Linked DNA regions of Homo sapiens: region 2 is linked to region 1. Evidence: fine-mapped expression QTL. Tissue or cell type: whole blood. Region 1 holds a variant in brackets; the other region holds the start of a gene. All regions are shown on one strand. Distances are from middle to middle.

Region 1 (10,553 bases):
AGTTTCTGCATGTTACCCAGGCTGGTCTCGAACTCCTGGGCACAAGCGATCTGTCCACCTTGGCCTCTCAAAGTGCTGATATTACAGCTGTGAGCCACCGCGCCTGGCTGAGTTATGCCCTTCTAATTAACAGAAGAAAACAAAAAATGATGGTATGGAACTTGGAACGCTAGGTCATAAAAGGTACTCTGTTCCTCTTTACTTGCTGTCTCCTGGATCACTCTGAGGAATGTTAGCTGCCATGTTGTAAGGGCAGTCAAGCAGCCTAGAGAGAGGCGTATGTGGCAAGAATTGAAGCTTCCTGCCAGAATCAGCAAAGAACTGAGGCTTTCTGCTAATAGTGATGTAAATGAGCTACCTTGGCAGATTTTCCAACCCAAGTCAAGCTTTCAGATGGCTATAGCCACGTGAAAGCCCTGAGCCAGAACTGCCAGCTAAGCTGCTCCTGAATTGCTGACCCATAGAAACTATGAGACAATAAATTTGTGTTGTTCTAGGTTGTTGAGTTTTGGGGTATTTGTGATACAGCAACACATTTTATTATTATTCCCATTTTACCCACAAGGAAAGTGAAATTCTAAGAGGTTCAGTAACTTGCCAAAGGTCACAGAGTTCATAATAGCTATACAGGTAGGTTCAAATCCAGGGACTCTTGACCCCAAGGCCCACAATATTAATCAGCACAGGGTTAACTATAATTTTTGGACAGCAACCAAACCCATCATATTTAGATTTTTAAAAAATTTAACTTGGGCCTATGAAGATTATTGTATGGTAATTCAATTTAACTCCACAAACCTCAAATTCAAAAACTTACCCACCACAATAAAGTTTCCACACTTAGATACACATGCTGAGGATTCAATTCGATCTCCCAAAATCTGTTCCCATTTTACCTTCCCAGAGTAAAAGTCAACTGCCTTCATTCTATGAGAATGGGAACCAATGTACACAGTTGTAGATGACTTATCAAAAGTGGGTATTACAACCAGCGGTGAAGCATCTACACATTTGCCTGTGTCTGACCTCCACCTCACATGTAACTCCATTTTCTGAGTCCCTATCGCAGGTTTCCCCTCTTCAGAAACTTTTGCAACACAGGATGGATCTTTTGACTTCCCAATAAGAACTGGAGAATTTAAGCCTTTCAAATTTTGAATGTTGGTCTGTGAAACTGAGTCAGAAGGACAGGCTGAAGAGCAATGTCCTAACTTTGTTAAAAACCTAGTGGAATTCAGAGACAAAATTTGACTCCCTCTGCTCAGTACAACAAAAGCATTAATCTCATTGTGGCAAGTGAAAGTCATGATGGCTTTCTGATGTAAAGATGTTCCACTGGCTTCCTCTTGATTAATGTCGCTGAGTTTCCTTTTTGTGGCACAACTCTTCCTGAATGTCACATCTTCATCTGGAACCACTGTTTGAAGGATGTGATTATAAATCTCTAAAATGGAACTGCTGAGAATAATTTCCAGAAGCCCAGGTACTGATGTACCAACAAGTTTTTCAATCTCACTGAGGAGCCGGATGGACTTTAAGGAATCTCCACCACTATTTAAGAAGAGTGACTCATCAGGAACCCTCAAAAGATCTTCTGGGAGATTCAGAGTAGACTACAGATGAGAGAATAGAGAAATATGTGACGTAAAGGTCTAAAAGCAAAAGACTTCAACATTTACAGGTAATATATAGAGATGAGAGTACCTACATTAATAATTAGAAATATAGGTCGGGTACAGTGGCTCACGCCTGTAATCCCAGTACTCTGGGAGGCCAAGGCGGGCAGATCACATGAGGTCAGGAGTTCGAGACCATCCTGGCCAACACAGTGAAACCCCACCTCCACTAAAACCACGAAAATTAGCTGGGTGCGGTGGTAGCCACCTGTAATCTCAGCTACTCGGAGGCTGAGGCAAGAGAATCGCTTGAACCCAGGGGGTGGAGGTTGCAGTGAGCCAAGATTGCGCCACTGCACTCCCGCCTGGGCAACAGAGTGAATCTCCATCTCAAAAATAATAATAATAATAACAATTAGAAATATAAAATAAATACTTTTAATAATAAAAATAAAGTTTTAAATTATTTTATTTATGTTAAAGGAGATCACTGTACTACCAATTTTGTCACAAATTCACTCTAAAAGTACAAAATATACTTCCCTTTAGAGCAGTTTTCTTACCCATAAAATTGGGACAAAAACATCTGATTTATTAATTATAAAGCCCACAAGATACCAATAGCCAATATTTCTATAATATGGGAATAATTTGTCTTTGGCTGCTTCATATAAAGCAAAATTACTTTCCAAGAATCTAAAAATGAAGTAGAAGAGACTTTTATCTTAGATACCCTCTATTTTTAGACAAGGCTACACAATTACATCCTCTTTTCAGAACCCTTTAAAAAAGAAAAATCTACATTTTATTTAAGAAAAATTATTAACTTACTGAGATATATTTTTAAACAAACTCTCTCAAGTAGAAATAAATATTGTTACTGAAAGTTCTTTTAGAATAATGATGTAAGCCCTAAGTATAACAGACAACGCACTGTGCTATAGCAAGATTTGGCTATTTTCTCAGCTCTGACAAGAGTGTTACTACATTCCACCGATCCTCTTAGAGAAAAGTTATGTCAAAACAGGCTTTGTCTACTTGTGCCTTTTATGACTACTTCACTTTCAATAAATTTCTTTGTCGGAAACTTAATCTAGTCTTATAGTAGAGAATCTAACCTTCATTTTAATACAAATTGGATAAATGAAGATATACTACCTAACATCTGGGTAGCAATAACATTCTCAGAAAATTTTATCCAACTTGTTAGGATAATAGCAGTCCCTAAAGATATAAAACGACCTCTTTATAATAATAATTTTATAACTTAAAAATTGTACCTTCCACAAATACTGTAATTTTTCCCAAAGGTCCTCTTTCCCACTGAGCTTATTCTCAGACTTCAAGTTTATGTAGTTTAAATATATCTTGTTTAACTCAGAAACATCAATTTTGCCTTAATATAAAAGAGAAATAACAAATGTTTTAAAACATTTTAAAATTTCACTCAAAGCCTTTATATATTCATTAGCCATATACATTTTTCTTTGTACAACACAGAAATCATATAAAGAGTTTGTTGTCAACAATCAATTCTAAAAAGTTGTCTGATACTACCAAGAATATACAGAGAAATAGATGAGAAACAGGTCAGGCATAGTGGCTCAGTCCTGTAACCCCAACACTTTGGGAGGCTGAGGTGGGAGGATCGCTTGAGGCTAGGTGTTCAAGACCAGCCTGGGCAACACAGCAAGACCCTGTCTCTACAGAAAAATTAAAAAATTGGCCTGTAGTTCTAGCTACTCGGGAGGCTTAGATGGGAGGATCACTTGAACCCAGGAAGTTGAGGCTGCAGTAGTGAGCCCTGACTGCACCACTGCATTCCAGCTTGGGTGAAGAAGTGAGACCCTATCTCCAAAAAAAAAAAAAAAAGAAAGAAAAAGGAAAAAAGGAGCTAATATTTATCCAATTTATCTCAATTTCAAGAGTTAAGGAAATAGTTCCATTACCTGAGCAATTACTGCATGTTGAAGTATATATTAAATAAAAATGAAATTGGGAAGGCAATATAATATGGTGATTAAGATTATATATTTTGAAGTCAAACAGTCCTAGACAGACAAAACAAACAATAATAAAAATAAAATTAAAATAAAAAACAGTCCTAGACAGAATATCAATTCTATCACTGTGATAGGTTAATTGTATGTGTCAATGTGGGTGGGCCACAGGGTGCCCAGATTAACCATTTTTCTGACTGGGTCTGTGAGGGTGCTTCTGGATGAGATTAGTAGATGAAACTAATTAAGGACTCAGTAAAGTAGATTGGGCATCATCCAAACTGTTGAGGGCCAAAATAGAAAAAAGGCAGAGAAAGGAAGAATTTGCATGCTTTTTCTTTCTCTTTTTTGAGATGGAGTCTCACTCTGTTGCCTAGGCTGGAGTGCAGTGGCGCAACCTCGGCTTACTGCAACCTCTGCCTCCTGGGTTCAAGCGATCCTCCCACCTCAGCCTTCCAAGTAGCTGGGACTACAGGCGTGCACCACTGCAATCAGCTAATTTTTTTGTATTTTTAGTAAAGACAGGGTTTCACCATTTTGGCCAGGCCAGTCTCAAACTCCCAACCTCAAGTGATCCACCTGCCTTGGCATCCCAAAGTGCTGGGATTATAGGCGCGAGTTGCCGCCCCTGGCCTGCACCCTTTTTCTTGCATCACTGCTTAAGCTAGGACATCTCATCTCCTCCTGTCCTCAAACAGGGATTTATATCATCAGCTCCCCTGATTCTCAGGCCTTAGGACACAGACTGGATACAGCACCGACTTTCCTGAGTCTCCAGCTTGCCAAAGGGAGATATTAGACTTCTTAGCTTCCATAATTGCATGGGCAAATTCCTGACAATAAATATTTTATCTATCTATATATTGGTTCTGTTTCTGGAGAACCATGACTACTATACTAATATAACCACTAACTAGCAAAATGATTTTTGGAAAATTACCTAACCTCTTTTTTTTTTTTTAGATGTTGCCAAGGCTGGAGTATAGTGGTTATTTACAGGCACAAACATAGCACACTGTGCCCTCAAACTCTCGGCCTCAAGCATCCTCCACTTTAGCTTCCCTGAGTGGCTGAAACTACAGGCGCTGACCACCATGCCTCACCTAACTACTTAACCTCTTTAAGCCTTATTTTCTTCATCTGTAAATAGGAATAATACCACCTATCCACAGGATTTTCTGAAGATAAAATGAATTAATTAGACAAAGCAGTCAAAAGAGGGTCTATCACAATAAATGCTAGTACCATTTATAAAAATAAAGATTTATGTTATCATTAAGCTAGTTATGAATACA[A/G]TTAGTATTATTTGGCACTGAAACATATCTGCTTTAAATTACTTTACCGTGGGATGTAAATGGTAGAGAGTCGATCAATACAAGCTCATCCGGGACTGCATGACTTGGAAGATATTTCTGCAGTTCTTTAAAGATGTATTCTTTTACTGAAGCATCTTTAGACACCATGAAGAGAATTAATTTTTCCTGATTATACCATGTAACTGCACAAGACTCCACTTGCTGAAGCTCTTCAGCAACCTATAAGAGAGATTATCCTAATTTGCCAATGAGGATATTTACAAACAAGCTTCCTAAAAGCTTATTTTTTTAATGTCTGAAATCAAAACAGCTGAATTAAATTTTGGAATATACTGGAGATTTTTAAAAAATTGCTTTGCTACTGTTACTATTACTTGCACATAGGGTTCATAATATTTTTCAAAATAATAGATCCTAAAGCAAAATAAGCCAGTTAAATTTCACAAATATCAAAATCTAATTTGTCACTTATTTAAAGAATAACCATCTCTTCATGCTGGGGATAAGGGGCACCCTGAATTATTCATACCCTTTATTGTAATTCATCACTAACACAAAAATGTCAGGTGTAAATAATAGAGACCCCAGCACAGAAAATTGGTGGTGGCTGCTTCTACTACTTACATATATTAATAGATATTCAATATTTAAATAGTTCTACCTGTTGCACAAGTTCAATGTTAAGACGTTTGCCATGACGTTTGATCTGACTGTCTTTTCGTCCCAAAAAAAAAATCTCTCCATCTTTCACAGTCACAAAGTCTCCTGTAGCTCGCATTGTGCCAAGTGGTACTGTCACTTCATCATCAAGAAAACACACTCTGTTTCTGCCACCTTCCCAAGATATAAACACCAATGTCATAAAAATCCAAGGGAAATATATTAAAAACCATAAAATCAACATCTCCAAAAGTTCAGTGACTAAACTTCAAAATTTAAATATTAAAAGATGGGCTCATTTTAAAATGTTATCTGATAAAATCAGACACAATAAGTTCAGTAAATAAGCAGAGATAAAATGAAATTTATTTCTTAAAATTTATGGAATTAAAAAAATTCTTAGACTACTGATTAAATATAATTTTGGCTATAAATATAAATATGAAGGTCCAAGTTACAGTCTCTAAATTACTTTTATTAATGTGTTAGACATTATTATCTGAAATAATTATTGTAACATTTGGTATTTCATGACTATATGAATGAGAATAAAAATTATCACTGAAAAGCATGAGATAGACAAAAGAAAAAGACGAAAGGAATAAAATTAACACATCAGATCATTTTTCTTGAAAAAAAAATTCCCAATCAACAAATATAAAACAACCTAAAAATACTTGGCCACTGCCTTCCTGAATTGTGAAGCCATTAGTATCTCTGACTTCAACTACTGTTCCAAGAAGTGGAAATCCCAGTTGTACAGGCAATTCACATCTATGAAAATAAGATACAGAGCAGATTTAAAATTTTTCATTTGAATAGAATATTTTCCAATATATTTAAATCATACTGTACCAAATAAAGAAAAAAAAGTTTGTTACGCTCTAATTCAAAGACTGACAAGAGGAAAAGGTTAGGTGGAAAGGTAACCATATATGTTATTCATTACTATTTAGTACAAAAAGTTGCAGCAGTATCTTGGCACCAGCTATAGTAAGGAAGGTTCTGGATTCCCAACTTAAAATATCAGATACAATCGTGTTTCTAAAATTATTACCCCAGCACCTATCAAAAACACTGTCAGTGTTAAGATCCTAGAAATATACAGTCTCTCTTCTCTATATAGTACAATGAAAACCCTTACTTGAGAGTAGAGTTAAGAGTCTTCTCTGGAATCCTATAAATGGTCGCCCAACTTGATACCTCTGTGATACCATAAACATTAAATATTTGTGTTTTATTGCCTTCTCCTCTCCAGCTTCTGAGAACTGTCAATGATGGAAACGCTTCACCACCAAGGGCTAATACTCGAAGAGAAGTAGTGGCTGACAAAACAGTTGACTTGATAAGCTGAGATCCAAATCTTCTAAGCAATGTTGGTGTTGCCTGTAGATACATTAAAAATAATTTATTTATTTTCCTTCACTTCTTTAAAAAGGTAAGCACTGTAGTTATTATTTCAAAGTTAACATTTGGAGCCCACATGGAAATGAAGGCTGTGTTTATCAAATGGGAAATCCCATTTGGAAAACTACTGGTGCAACATTATCTTCTTGTTTTTTTTTTTTTTTTTTTTTTGGTTTTGTTTGTTTGTTTTTTGAGACAGGGTCTCACTCTGTTGATCAGGCTGCAGTGCAATAGCATGACCATGGCTCACTGCAGCCTCAACCTCCCAGGCCCAAGTCATCATCCCACCTCAGCCTCCTGAACAGCTTGGGACTACAGGCACGTACCACCACACCTAGCTAATTTTTAAAATTTTTTGTACAAATGGGGCCTGTGTTGCCTAGGCTGGTCTTGGACTCCTGGGCTCAAGCAATCCTCCCACTTTGGCCTCCCAAAGCTCTAGGATTACAGGCATGAGCCACCATGCCTGGCCCAACATTATCTTCCTAATGTGGGTATCACTTATGCTTTAGAAAAAAACTCAAGCAAAAATATTACTTATATTTCATCATACTGATTACACAAAAAGGTTTAGGATAAAAAGGACAAAATCTATAAAATCAATTTACCTTTCCTTTCTTACTCTGTATAAAAAGTATACAAAAGGGTTTAAAAATGTGCCTAAGTAGCTCTCTCCTCCCGCCGTCCAAGATGCCAAAAGGAAAGGCCAAGGGAAAGAAGGTGGCTCTGGCCCCTGCTGTTGTGAAGAAGCAGGAGGACAAGAAAGTGGTGAATCCCCTGTTTGAGAAAAGGCCTAAGAATTTTGGCACTGAGCAAGACATCCAGCCCAAAAGAGACCTCACCAGCTTTGTGAAATAGCCCTGCTCTATCAGGTTGCAGCGGCAGAGAGCCATCCCTCAATAAGCGGCTGAAAGTGCCTCCTGCGATTAACCAGTTCACCCAGGCCCTGGACCGCCAAACAGCTACTCAGCTGCTTAAGCTGGCCCACAAGTACAGACCAGAGACAAAGCAAGAGAAGAAGCAGAGGCTGTTGACCTGGGCTGAGAAGAAAGCTGCTGGCAAAGGGGATGTCCCCAGTAAGAGACCACCTGTCCTTCGAGCAGGAGTTAACACCATCAACACCTTGGTGGAGAACAAAGAAAGCTCAGCTGGTGGTGACTGCACACGTGGCTCCCATCGAGTTGGTTGTCTTCTTGCCTGCCCTGTGTCATAAAATGGGGGTCCCTTATTGCATTATCAAGGGGAAGGGAAGACTGGGATGTCTAGTCCACAGGAAGACCTGTACCACTGTCGCCTTCACACAGGTTAACTTGGAAGACAAAGGCGTTTTGGCTAAGCTAGTGGAAGCTATTAGGACCAATTACAATGACAGATACGATGAGATCCACCGTCACTGGGGCGGCAATGTCCTGGCTCCCAAGTCTGTGGCTCGCATCGCCAAGCTCGAAAAGGCAAACGCTAAAGAACCTGCCACTAAACTGGGTTAAATGTACACTGCTGAGTTTTCTGTAAATAAAAATAATTAAAATAATAGAAATTTTCCTTTAAAAATGTGCCTAAGTAAAACAATAATGAATAAAGATTTATAACAAAAGCTTTATTGAGATATAACTGACATATAATAAACTATTTTAAGTATACAATTTAATATGTTTTATGTATATACTAGTAAAACCATCACCACAATCAAAATAATGAACATAACTGTCTTAGTTGATTTGGCTTACTATAACCAAAATACTGTAGACTAGGTAAGAAATGTAGTGCTGACGGTTCTGGAGATGGGGAAGTCCAAGATCAAGGTATGGGCAGACTTAGTGTCTGGTGAGTACTCTACTTCATAGATGGTACCTTCTTGCTGTGTTCTCGCATGGTAGAAGGAACCAAAAAGCAACCTCAGGCTTCTTTTATAAGAGCACTAATCTCATTCATGAGGTTCCCACCCTCATGACATAGTGATCTCCTGAAGGCCCCACATCTTAATACCAACAGATTGGGGATTAGATTTCAACATATGAATTCTGGAGAGACACAAACATTCAGATGACAGCAATATTTATCACTCCCAAAACTACCTGTGTACCACTGTTAGTCTCCTCTCCAACTGGACCCCTTATCCAGACAACCACTGATCTATTTTCTGTCGCTACAGATCAGAATAATCTTGTATAATTCCATTAATATAAATTATATATATAATTATATATAATTATGAATAGAAATTATATATTCCATTTATATAAATGGAATCATAAAATAAGTAGCCTGTTTTGGCCTGCCTTCTTTCACTCAACATAATAGATACAATTCATCTATGCTGCTAAGTGTATCAACAGTTTCATTCCTTTTTATTGCTAAGTGGTATTCTATAGTATGGATCAGGACTGGGTTTCACTGTTCCATATAACATTTAGGATCAACTTATTCATTTCTAACAAAAAAGCCTACTGGATTTTGCTGGGAAGTGTGTTTAATTTACAGATCAATTTGGGGAGAAATGCAATCTCAACAATATTAAAACTTCTAATCTATAAAGACAAAATGTTATTTAGGTCTCTAATTTCTATCAACAATGCTTTATAGTTTTCAGTGTACAAATCTTGCTCTTTAGCTTTATTCCTATTTTATTGTTTTTTGATGCTAGTGTAAATATTATCTTAATTTCATTTTTAGATTTTTCTTTAATACATATACATATATATGTACAAATATATATATAGAAATACAATTGATTTTTGTATATTGATCTTCTATCCTCCAACCTGACTAAACTTTATTATTTCTAGTAGTCCTCCTCACCAGCCCCACCCCTCTACAATATTTTCTATATACAGGATCACATCAACTGCATATAAAGAGTTGTACTTCCTCCTGTCCAATGTAAGTATCTTTAGTTTTTTTCCTTCTTACCTTATTGTACTGGCAAGAACCACCAGAATGTTGAAGTGGCAAAGGCAAACTTGCTTGCCTTGTTCCCAATCTTAGGGTCAAAGCATTCAGTCTTTTATCAAGTATGGCGTCATATTACCTGTAGTTCTATTGTAGGTGCCCTTCTTCATATTGGGAAAGTTCCCTTCTATTCCTAGCTTGTTAGGAGCTTTTTAAAAAATCATAAATGGGTGTTAGATTTTGCCAAATCCTTTCTCTGCATCCATTAAGATAGGTATGTGCTTTTTGTTCATTATTCTTTACGTAGTATACATCATCAATAGATTTTTGGATGTTAAACCAAACATGCATTCCTGGGATAAATCCCACATGGTCACCTTTAAATTTACTGAGACTTGTTTTGTGGCTTAGCATATGACTTATCCTATGAAATGTGCCAATGTGCTTAAAAAGAATTCTGCAATCATTGGATGGAGTGTTCCATATATGGCATTTGGTTGATAATGTTGTTCAAGTCTTCGATACTAGCTGATTTCTGTCTAGTTTTTCAATCAATTATTGAAAGTGGGGTATTACAATCTCCAACCATTGAGTTGTCTACTTATGTTTTCAATTTTGTCCATTTTTGTTTCATGTATTTGGAAGCAAGTTTTAGGTGGATATAC
Region 2 (10,553 bases), 35 kb after region 1:
CCGTTGCACTCCAGCCTGGGCAATAAGAGTGAAACTTCATCTCAAAAATAAATAAATACATAAACACTGTCATTTTATCTTTTCTTAATGAAAATCCTGAGTATTTACTATGTTAAATTCTTATCACTTAATATAGAGAAATACAAGATTTTTTTAAAGTTAAGCATTTTAAGTAGTTTCAGGTATACTTTAAGGACACTAGATCTTTGCACATAGTAAATTCTCAATAAATTTCGTCAATAATTGAGTGAAAGTAAATTTTTGTTGTTGTTTTTATTTGTTTTATAGAGATGGGGTCTTGTGAAGTCACCAGGGTGGTCTCGAACTCCTGGCCTTAAATAATACTCCAGCCTCAGCCTCTCAAAGTGCTGGGATTTACAGGTGTGAGCCACTGTGCCTGGCCAAAAGTAAATTTTTGAACATCTTTTGCTTTATATTTATATAATTAATTTACTAAGACACATATTATAGAATGAATAAACTATTTCTTTGGCAGTTTATACTTACTGCAGAGTTCTAGAATAGAAATCACTATATGAGGATAACATTCTAGAACAATTTAAATGATTGAACATTTTGCAAATATTTGTTGGAATAGTGTCTTCTAATGGGTTCATATTTCAATCTATATCAACTATTATCCAAAACTCTAATTTACTGATTTATTGAATACCTTAGTGCCTCAAATTTCAGTTGCGGACAAAAAACATAGTCATGTTATCTGTGAAATCCTGTTTTCTTTTATCTAACAACAAAGTGTTATAAATTGTTATAATTGTTTTCCTTTAACAGATTAATGAAGCCCTTACATTTTGGAGATACTTATACGTTCTATTAGTGAAAGCTTCTAGTCTTTCCTAAATAAGCTCAGAATAATTAATTTAAATAATATAAAAATAATACTGGGGAAATGCAAACTTCTTTAGTCTCTCTACAATTGACCAAACAATATAGAAAAGTCCAATAGTAAACAGAACAATAACTTGCAATATACTCTATTAAAAATTTACATTAGCTTGGAGTAACATCAAATTTACAGTTCTAAAAAATATTACCCTAAAATCCAAGAGGGTAAGTCTATCCCAGGTTGGCAGTAGAGACCAATTTCCCGAATTCCTTGAAAGTCACAGTGTAACAGCAGAAAATTTGATAATTCAGAAGCAGCATTAACCACAGTCTTGTAGGTGTAGTAAACTGGAAGCTGGTTGTTGCATTCATCAAAACATACAGCTACTCTGTCCATATAACAGGAGGCAGCCTTATGCACCAATTCCTGAAGAGTCATTTCACTGAAGTTTATCTAAACATCAATTTGTAGCACAGAACCCTGTGTATATACAGAAGTGTTAGGGGGAGAGGGAGTTTTAGAGAGCTCGGTGGAGGGACAGGGAAAAACTTCTCTACAATAATATCTCACAAAAATAATTATATCAAAGATATATAAATGAAGAATCTCTGAACTTATGAAATTATGGTAACTTTACTGAGGACAATGAGGTTGAAAATTAACTTGATACATCAACCTATGCTGGGTCAGAGCATCAAAAAAATTTGGGAGGGCAGTGGTATACACAGATGAAAATGAAGCAGGTAAAAATGGAGACTTCTCTCTCAACGGACCACAATGTAAATATGAAATATATAAAAAATTAATCAATAAAATCAAATTTAAAGGACCCCACACTTAATTTTTTTTTACTTTCCTTCAGTAACTGTTACAGATTTGTTAAGATAGAGTAGTCAAAATCTTGTATGGTGACTTTAAAATTACTAATGTGGCCGGGTGCGGTGGCTCACACCTGTAATCCCAGCACTTCGGGAGGCCGAGGTGGGTGGATCACTTGAGGTCAGGAGTTCAAGATCAGCCTGGCCAACATGGTGAAACCCTGTCTCTACTAAAAATACAAAAATTAGCCGGGCAAGGTGGCATACACCTGTAATCCCAGCTACTCTGGAGGGTGAGGCAGGCGAATCACTTGAACCCAGGAGGCAGAGGTTGCAGTGAGCCAAGACGGCACCACTGCACTCCAGCCTGGGTGACAGGGCAAGACCCCATCTCAAAATAAATAAGTAAATGAAATAAAGATAAAATAAAATGACTAATGTAAATAAACTTTGCTTTTAAATTCCAGTAGGAGCTAAACTCAGATGAAAGCAAAATCAATCTTTGACAGAAGAAAGCAAAAAACCCTATTCCTATTCATTCAGTTCTAGACAACTATATATAAAAACAGTGTTTATTACTATACTATTAATATTTTACAGAAGTCATACTTGTATAATTGTCAAGAAGTAAACTCTTCATACTGTATAGTTTATTTTTAAATTGCCAATAAGTTCACTTAGACTGAAAATATAATATTACAACTCAATAAAGCAGTATATCAATGCAATGTTCTCTGGGTTTCTTAATGCAGATTATATTAAAAGATTCGAAACAGTATTTCAAGAAAGAAACACTCGGGATCAACGGTAAAAAAAATTCACAGTGTTTCCTTAAAGGTGAAAGTTATTTTTTTCCCTCTCTGAACTCTGTTTTCCATATTTTAAAGCAATTAAGACTTACCAAGTAGCCTGCTTCAGTAAAGTTTTTGTTTGTTTTTGTGACAGTCTCGCTCTGTTCCCCAGGCTGGAATGCAATGGCGTGATCTCGGCTCACTGCAACCTCTGCCTCCCAGATTCAAGCGATTCTCCCACCTCAAGCTCCCGAGTAGCTGGGATTACAAGTGCGCGCTACCATGTCCAACTAATTTTTGTTTTTGTTATTTTTTTTTAAGTAGACACAGGGTTTCTCCATGTTGGCCAGGTTGGTTTTGAACTCCTGACCTAAGTGATCCACCTACCTTGGCCTCCCAAAATGTTAGGATTACAGGCGGAGCCACCGCGCCCGGCCGAGTCAAGTTTTCTTTTCTTTCTTTTTTTTTTTTTAATTTATTCACACCTATTTGAATTGATTTCCTGACTCAAAATTTTCATTTATATCAACTAATTAACATCAATTAGGAAAAAGAAATCCTAAAGAGAGTAAAATGAACCAATAACTGCCAAGACCCATAAGTTTGAAAATGCTGTGATTTCTAAATATACAGTTTAAACATATAAGGCAACTTTAGTACTTACATTATTTATTTTTAGTAGGCATTTCTATAAATATTAGCTCTTTTTAATGCACAAGATACAATTTTAAGCTTTCCTCAGACATACAATGATCATTATGTAAATATAAGGGAGGCTTTCTGCAGCAGGCGCTTAAATTATGAGGAATGAGTTCATTTCGCAACATACAGGTAGCGCAGAAGGGTACCTACACATCTATACGATAATTAAGATGTTTCTTTCCATTTTCCCAATGGTTGCTACAGACATTTAAGGTAAAATCCATTCTTCTTGTCTCAGGTTTTCATTTTCATTCATTGAATCACAAATAACATTCTCTGCAGTAGAGAATACTAAACTTATTAATGCCCAAATGTTTGAGACCTTAAAAAGGAAAAAAAGGCCGGGCGCGGTGGCTCACGCCTGTAATCCCAGCACTTTGGGAGGCCGAGGCGGGTGGATCATGAGGTCAGGAGATCGAGACCATCCTGGCTAACAAGGTGAAACCCCGTCTCTACTAAAAATACAAAAAATTAGCCGGGCGCGGTGGCGGGCGCCTGTAGTCCCAGCTACTCGGGAGGCTGAGGCAGGAGAATGGCGTCAACCCGGGAAGCGGAGCTTGCAGTGAGCCGAGATTGCGCCACTGCAGTCCGCAGTCCGGCCTGGGCGACAGAGCGAGACTCCGTCTCAAAAAAAAAAAAAAAAAAAAAAAGGAAAAAAAAAAGCAAACTCTGGTAAGCAGATTTTACATGTAAAAGGAATAAATTTACTTGCTACAACTGTAGAAGCTGCTATTTAGTCAACAAAGATCTTAAGAGTGTCAGCAAATTCAATTGCTATGGGGCCTCTCTCTAGGCCACTGGCTGTTTTAAAAATGGATAAATAATCTAGAAACTTTATTTTCCCAATTCCCCGGCTTCTAAATTTACGGTATGCAACGAGTAACAATGCAATTTACAGCTTCCTAAACATTTCTTCATTGCTCTTCGAAACCACTCTAGGGGGTAGCTGAGCGCGGAGCACACTTATTTCCATTTGAATGGAGGGGCGGAGGCTAGTGACGCAGGAGTGTACACACAGGTCAGGGTTAGTCTGCACCACACCAGCACGCCAGACCCCGATGTATCAAATCCGAGGTCAGGCAGTGGTCCTGAAGCTGAGCAAATGTATGTGGAAGCAGGCTCAGGCCTAGCGGCACTTCGCCTCCTTCACACAGACCCCCGCCGGACACCGCGCCCTGCCGCGACTCACTTAGCAAGTCTCGCGGATTAGGTTTGATCGCATTCGGCCCTTTCCCGGATAGCTCGTCGCGGATACTTCTCACAGCGAAGCAGCAGCTCCCAGAAGCCGTAAAGCTATCCCAGAGCGAGGCACCATACGTAAATCTTCCGCGTCGCTACGTGACGTCAGTGCGAGCGACCCCGGGCCGGCTGCGTGGAGCTGGCGCTGCCTCTCCTGAAGCCGAGGCGCTAACTTGAGTGAAGAGGTCTATAGGCTTTTTCACTTTTGGTTATCTGCTCAGGCGCTCCTTGGGGTCGCGCATGGTCTCGGACAGGGTTTGCAAGGACTTCGGAGCTAACCAGTTTGGAGCCATAACCCTTTCGTACTTGCCAAAAAACTCTGGGCAAGACTCTTGAATTTTGAGCCGCAGTATTCTCGTTCATAAGGTGAGAATAAAAACATCACCTAGGGTTGATGTGAAGAGAGATGAAATCATTGTGAAATAGGAGAGTTATTGCTTTCAACCAATGACATTTTCTGGAAACGTGCTGGAGATATGGCTGCAGCAGTGACGCCTGCAAACGACGTTCCTGTCATCATGATGCTGACATTTTAATTGGGAAGCAGATTGAAACGATAACTAAGGAATTTGACAGGAGCATTTAGTAGGACCTGTAAAGAAATTAAAGCAGGTCCGAGGTGGAGTTTTGTAAACTATATGCCTGAATAGAACTTTCTGTTTCCAAGGGAATTGTTACAGTTGGAGACATGTCAATTATTACAATAAGCGTCAAGGGCAATAACAGAGGTGTTTTAAAGCTACTGTCTGGTGGCAGAATAATCGGGATTTTTTTGTTTGGGGGGTTTTAGCCGGGGGAGGGACTGCGAAGACAGCTCTGCATCAAAACAGTACGTGAGAAAAAAGCATAGGACGCTCTCGCAGCCGTAGTTGTTGGTGACAAGAAACTGTGCTTCTAATCTAAGCAAAAAATATCTCCACATGCCAACTATACTTTTCCAAGATGTACCATGGACTACTCAAACTAACACAGCCTTATTTATGTATTTAGGTTGGAAGTGGGCAAAAGTGTATCTTGTCTATGTTTCTATGTTTCTACGTTGGGATGACACCATCATCCACCCAGCCAGACAGTTATCAACCTTCCCACTTTCTTAACCTCTTACATCCGATTAGACCCTATGTCCTCTAGTTCTCAGTCTTGAGACCAGCACCCAGCTGGCTACATCAGAATTGCCGGTGGTGATGTTTTAGAAGATTCCAAATTCCTGGACTCCATCCCCGGAGGTTCATCCCCTAGTTTTCTAGTGAGGGGCCTAGAACCTGCGTTTTTTAAGTGTCATGTTCATCGCCATTACTGCTACTTTAGTTCAGGTCTTCTTGGTCAGCTTTTTCCTAAAACGTTTTCAGTTTTGTTTGCCTCTGATTGACTCTGAATTGCTGCCAAAATGATGTTTTATTATTCCAGTATCATCATCCAACTCTCTGATATTAATGATACCTTTTTTAAAGTTTTTCTTCCCTTGCAGTATCTATTTCCCTCAAGTTTCCTTTTTTTTTCTTCTGTTGATTTTGTGCTCTATCTTTCACATTAGAGGCTTTCCTAGGATGTCTGGTGGTCCTTATCTGCTCATATGTAAGTGGGGGTATATTTAAAAGTTGATTGGAAGCTGTTGAGCCCATGGGACGTTTGTTGAAAATCAAGTGGGAGAGGAGGGGTATGGAGGCTGCGGTATGTCTCAGAATTTAGTACAATTTTCACTTAATTCTCTTTGTTTTAGGTGCCTGATGTCCTCCATTACAGAGACCCCGTTTTACTCCTGAGCAATAAAAAAAGGCTTCAGAATAAGGCGGGGGCCGGGGGTGGCATAAAGGATATAACACTCTCCTAAATGAACTTCCAGTCCTTTTAGGTACCCTCTTCACTTCTACTTCCTGAAGCCAGTTTCTTAGTTTTTTAGGGGGTTCTGTGATACAAATAGAATTGCTTGTTGGTTTTGCTCACTGGGGGTTTAGAATTCAGGTTTTTCAAGTCAACTGAGCCCTTTGCTATTGATTCCAGAATTTCATTTCCATTATTCCTTTTCTTTAATCCTTAAGGGTGTATGACTTTAAAAATCCTGTTACTGTCATTTTCAGGGAGTCTTAGGGAGCAAATGTAGAACACTATGTTTAAGACAGCATTTTTACCTGATAATCCAAGGTGATCATTCTAAAACATATACCAGATCAGTCATAGCATTCTTCTATGAGAATAAGAAGCTTCAATGATCCCTCGTTGCCTGCATAACATTCAGACTCTTCAGCAAGGTAAACAAGAGAGTTCATTTTCTTTCCAACCTGATATCTCACAGCAGGCCACTGCTCCCCCACCCATCTTCCACATTCCCCACACCTGATACTGTAAACTCTAGTCATAATGAAAGGCTAGTAAGAGTTCTGAGAATACAAAGTCCTTATCATGTTTCCACACCTGTTTTGGCTGGGCTCAGGCTGAAATACCCTTCTTTCTCCATGCCTGCTTGATGAAAATACAGCTTAAACATGACTTCCTCAGTGATGCCTTTCTTCAAGCCCTAAAGAATAATTTATCCAGACTCCTCCAAACTCCATCCCACGAACCCATCATACTCTTGGGAGGGGTCATTTGTCATGGGACCTGCAAATTCTGGGTTTGCCAAGAATGTAAGGTCCTAACTGCTCTTTACCTAGATCATTTTTCAGGGTTGTTTGGGATGATCAGTTTCATAGCTGAAGTATTCTTCCCAAAGAGTAGGCTTGCTTCCACTTAACTACAAAAGTATGGAATCCCCCAAACTCAGTATTCCTCTCCTATAATGTAACCCACTGACTGCATGTGCAGACATCCATGGAAGCCCATCTTCACCATCCTGGTGGGACTTGGGGGACATGGAAAATGCATAAACATGAAGTTCTGGCTTCTGCTTTTGCCATAAATTACAAAGTTCTTTGTCACCCAGGAATCCAAGTTTACTGCCATAAAACAGTTAACAGGCTATCTTACTAACTTTAAAATAGGTTTCAATACCAGACCCTTCCCAGACAGCGACATATATTTCTTACAGCATCAGTTGTTACTGTTGCTGCATTATTTCCAAATCTGACCTCCTATACTAAATAGCACCCTTATAGCAGGGATTCATGTCTTAGGCGCTTGTTTCCCAAACTATTTTTTTTTTTACTCAGCTCCATCCACTTACACTGTTCCAGTTGCAGGGAAATATCAAATGCCCACCCTGTACCCTGCTGATATTTTGTACCTTGACTGGCACACTCTACTTATTTTAAGGCTTATCTCTCAGTTGTCAATGTCATTGTTTCCTTAAAAAGTTCAAAAATAATTTGGAAAATCCTTGACCCTACCTGAAACAAGGTTAGGTCCTCCTGTTATGTGCTGTTGTACCACATATCACAGTTGGGATAATAAGGCATTGTGTGAGTTACTCTAAGTGTTCAGCTGCTCAGGAGAAGGCAGAGAGCAAATTAGTGGTTGAGTTTTTCAGGCTTGGTGTTTTGACAGGTGTATTAGTCTGTTCTCACATTGCTTTAAGTAAATATCTGAGACTGGGTAATTTATAAAGAAAAGAGGTTTAATTGACTCGGTTCCACATGGCTGGGGAGCCCTCAGGAAACTTAAAATCATGGTGGAAGGCACCTCTTCACAGGGCACGAGGAAAGAATATGTAACTATGGAAGTACACTGGAAGGCCAGGAGTGGTGGTGGCTCACACCTGTAATCCCAGCACTTTGGGAGGCCGAGGCAGGTGGATCACGAGGTCAAGAAATCAAGACCATCCTGGCCAATACAGTGAAACCGTCTCTTTGAAAAATATAAAAATTAATTTGGCATGGTGACACACGCCTGTAGTCCCAGCTACTCTGGAGGCTGAGGCAGGAGAATCACTTGAACCCAGGAGGTGGAGGTTGCAGTGAACCGAGATTGCGCCACTGCACTCCAGCCTGGTGACGAAGTGAGACTCCATCTCAAAAAATAAATAAATAAATAAAAATAAACCTCACTGTTTGTTTTAACAATAACAAGCGTGGTAAGGGTGGTGTCAGTCCATAAGTTAGATAGGCAGTTGCTAGGCAGATGTCGTTGCAGAAGTATGTGTGTGTGTGTGTGTGTTGTGTTTAAGGTTGTGGTGGCCTTTGTGCAGGTTGTAAATTTTTGTAGTCTTTTGATAGTTCTTGTTATCAACCATATGTACATGAGAACCCTTCCCCTTCATGGCGTTTCCTGGCTCCGTTTGCCAGGGTTTTAATACGAGTGACTCCATTTTGAATCTGACAACTTTCACATTTCCCCTTTTGATCAAGGTCTTTCTCAAAAGCATCACTGATCAATCATCCTGTATTTAGGTTTTGATATCTCTTGGTGCCAGTCTGCCCTCATGTTGAAGGGAGTCACTGGTAACTAGGAATTAGCATCAAAACCCTTTAGCCACATTTGAACAACAAAAGAGGTTTGGAGGGAGTGGATCTCAGGCTAAGTCTACCTGGAGTCCACTGTTAAGTTCAATTCTGTCTGTTCCATAGGCACTGTCTATCATCTCAAAGTGCTGGGAGAGCATTATTCTCTTAGGAGTTGCATTTCTATGCAAATTTGACAAGAAACAGGTATAAAGTTCTTAAAAAAAAAAAAAAGAAAATACAAAGTAACAATCTCAGCATAATAGTTTTCAGCCGTGAACCTAGGCTTAAAGACAACCAGTTGAATAAATCAAATGATCATGAAGAATTAGGTGAGACTTATTATACCATGTGGGCTATTTTCTTATTTTGTGTATATAAATTCCCCAAAGGAATGTATCCAGGTACAGCATGTAGTATGAGCAAAAGCACAGACATCTCTTTGTTTAGCTGGTACACAGCAATCCTATTACTTAGCATTCCATGACTGGCTTGAATTAAAGCAGAGAGAGCTAACTCTGTTTTAAAAAAGACCATTAGTACAATTTGAACAAAAAGTTTACTGAGGATGTTGCCAGTATTACCCCCTGGGTGGACTAAAGGATTTATGAAGTCAGATTCTGTCAAGTCACCCACAATATCTACCGATTGTGAAATTATCCTGCCAAATCAAAGAGGTAGGCATAAACAAGGAAGAATTAAGAGGGGCAAGAGTGTCATTAGGATGGGGAGTTATGTTCCATCATCTTGGGAAAAGCTGCCCACAGTATGGAGATGTTAGCTTTTCATTCTGGTTTACAGTTTTAATGTCTCTGGTTATAGCATTGGGCAGTTTTGTGAACCTTTGGGCATGAGATTTCTCCCTTAAAATTCAGTTAAGTTTGAGCTTGGGCTTTAAGAACATAGCAAGTCTCGTTTTTAGTAATTCTATGGAAGAAAGTTGGATTGGAGGAACCTAGAAGAATTAAAGATCCAGTCCAGCGACCAAGGTTTACCTAGTTGCACAGAAATTTTCTTAACACTGGCAGGTGCCCTACTAGTAATCTTTCTTGTCTGTGACCAGTTTATCCTTAACATGGGAGACTTTTTCTTTGGATACCTTCAATATTTTCAGAGTGGTATTTTCAGAGTGGTGCCTTTCACTTAGTTAATATGCATTTATGTTCCTTCTGTCATTTAATGGCTTGATTGCTCATTTCTTTTAAGCACTGAATAATATTCTATTGTCTGAATGTACTACAGTTTATCTATTCATTTACCTACCCACCCTGACACTTTGAATCTAATCCTGCTCTTCCATGACACTCCCTCTTTCCCCATAGTGCTTCCTAGGAACTTGCCACGATGTAGTGCTTACTTAGTACTGCTTTTCTAATTACTTAATTTGTCCCTCATAGTCAACCAGCAGTTTTGCCTGGTTCATAAGAGATGGCCTATTTATTGAAATGCCTGGATCAGAGAAATAAGATATGACTAGCTGGTGCCAAGAATGGAGCCTGGAAGTTGTCTCCATGCTGTTTACCATAAAGCACTAACTAAAGTCACTATTTAAAAAAAAAAAAAAAAGGACACACATATTTAAACATACTTATTACACATATTTATCAACAAGGCATCACAAATAAGTCACAAAAAGTAGGCTTAGTTTAGTTCACAATATAAATCCCGTGAAAACACATTTTTCATCTCTGCAGTTTATAATACTCTACGTATATGAATTTAAAGCAGTTAAACAACATTTGAGATTAAATTGGTAAAAAAAAATTGTAATTGAATTCAGACT

Evidence for each region. PIP is the estimated chance that this variant, and not a neighbour inherited with it, causes the effect.
Region 2: it holds the start of AASDH, and the variant in region 1 is fine-mapped to the expression of AASDH in whole blood (INTERVAL, PIP 0.97).

What each region holds. Positions count from the first base shown.
Region 1 is chr4:56,348,446-56,358,998 of GRCh38, forward strand. AASDH (aminoadipate-semialdehyde dehydrogenase) reads right to left here. Exons shown (of 15, transcript NM_181806.4): 6 at 6,737-6,978; 7 at 6,260-6,366; 8 at 5,594-5,766; 9 at 4,959-5,151; 10 at 2,897-3,012; 11 at 818-1,613. It also overlaps the pseudogene RPL7AP31. Among named protein-coding and RNA genes, the nearest start is that of AASDH, 34 kb to the right of the region's middle. The variant A/G (reference allele first, on the strand shown) is at 4,912.
Region 2 is chr4:56,383,015-56,393,567 of GRCh38, forward strand. It overlaps AASDH (aminoadipate-semialdehyde dehydrogenase), which reads right to left and starts at 4,477. Exons shown (of 15, transcript NM_181806.4): 1 at 4,348-4,477; 2 at 1,056-1,327. The coding sequence starts at 1,285. PPAT (phosphoribosyl pyrophosphate amidotransferase) reads right to left here. Exons shown (of 11, transcript NM_002703.5): 11 at 10,348-10,553. RefSeq lists enhancers at 3,895-4,402, 4,372-4,741, 4,403-4,909, 4,772-4,821.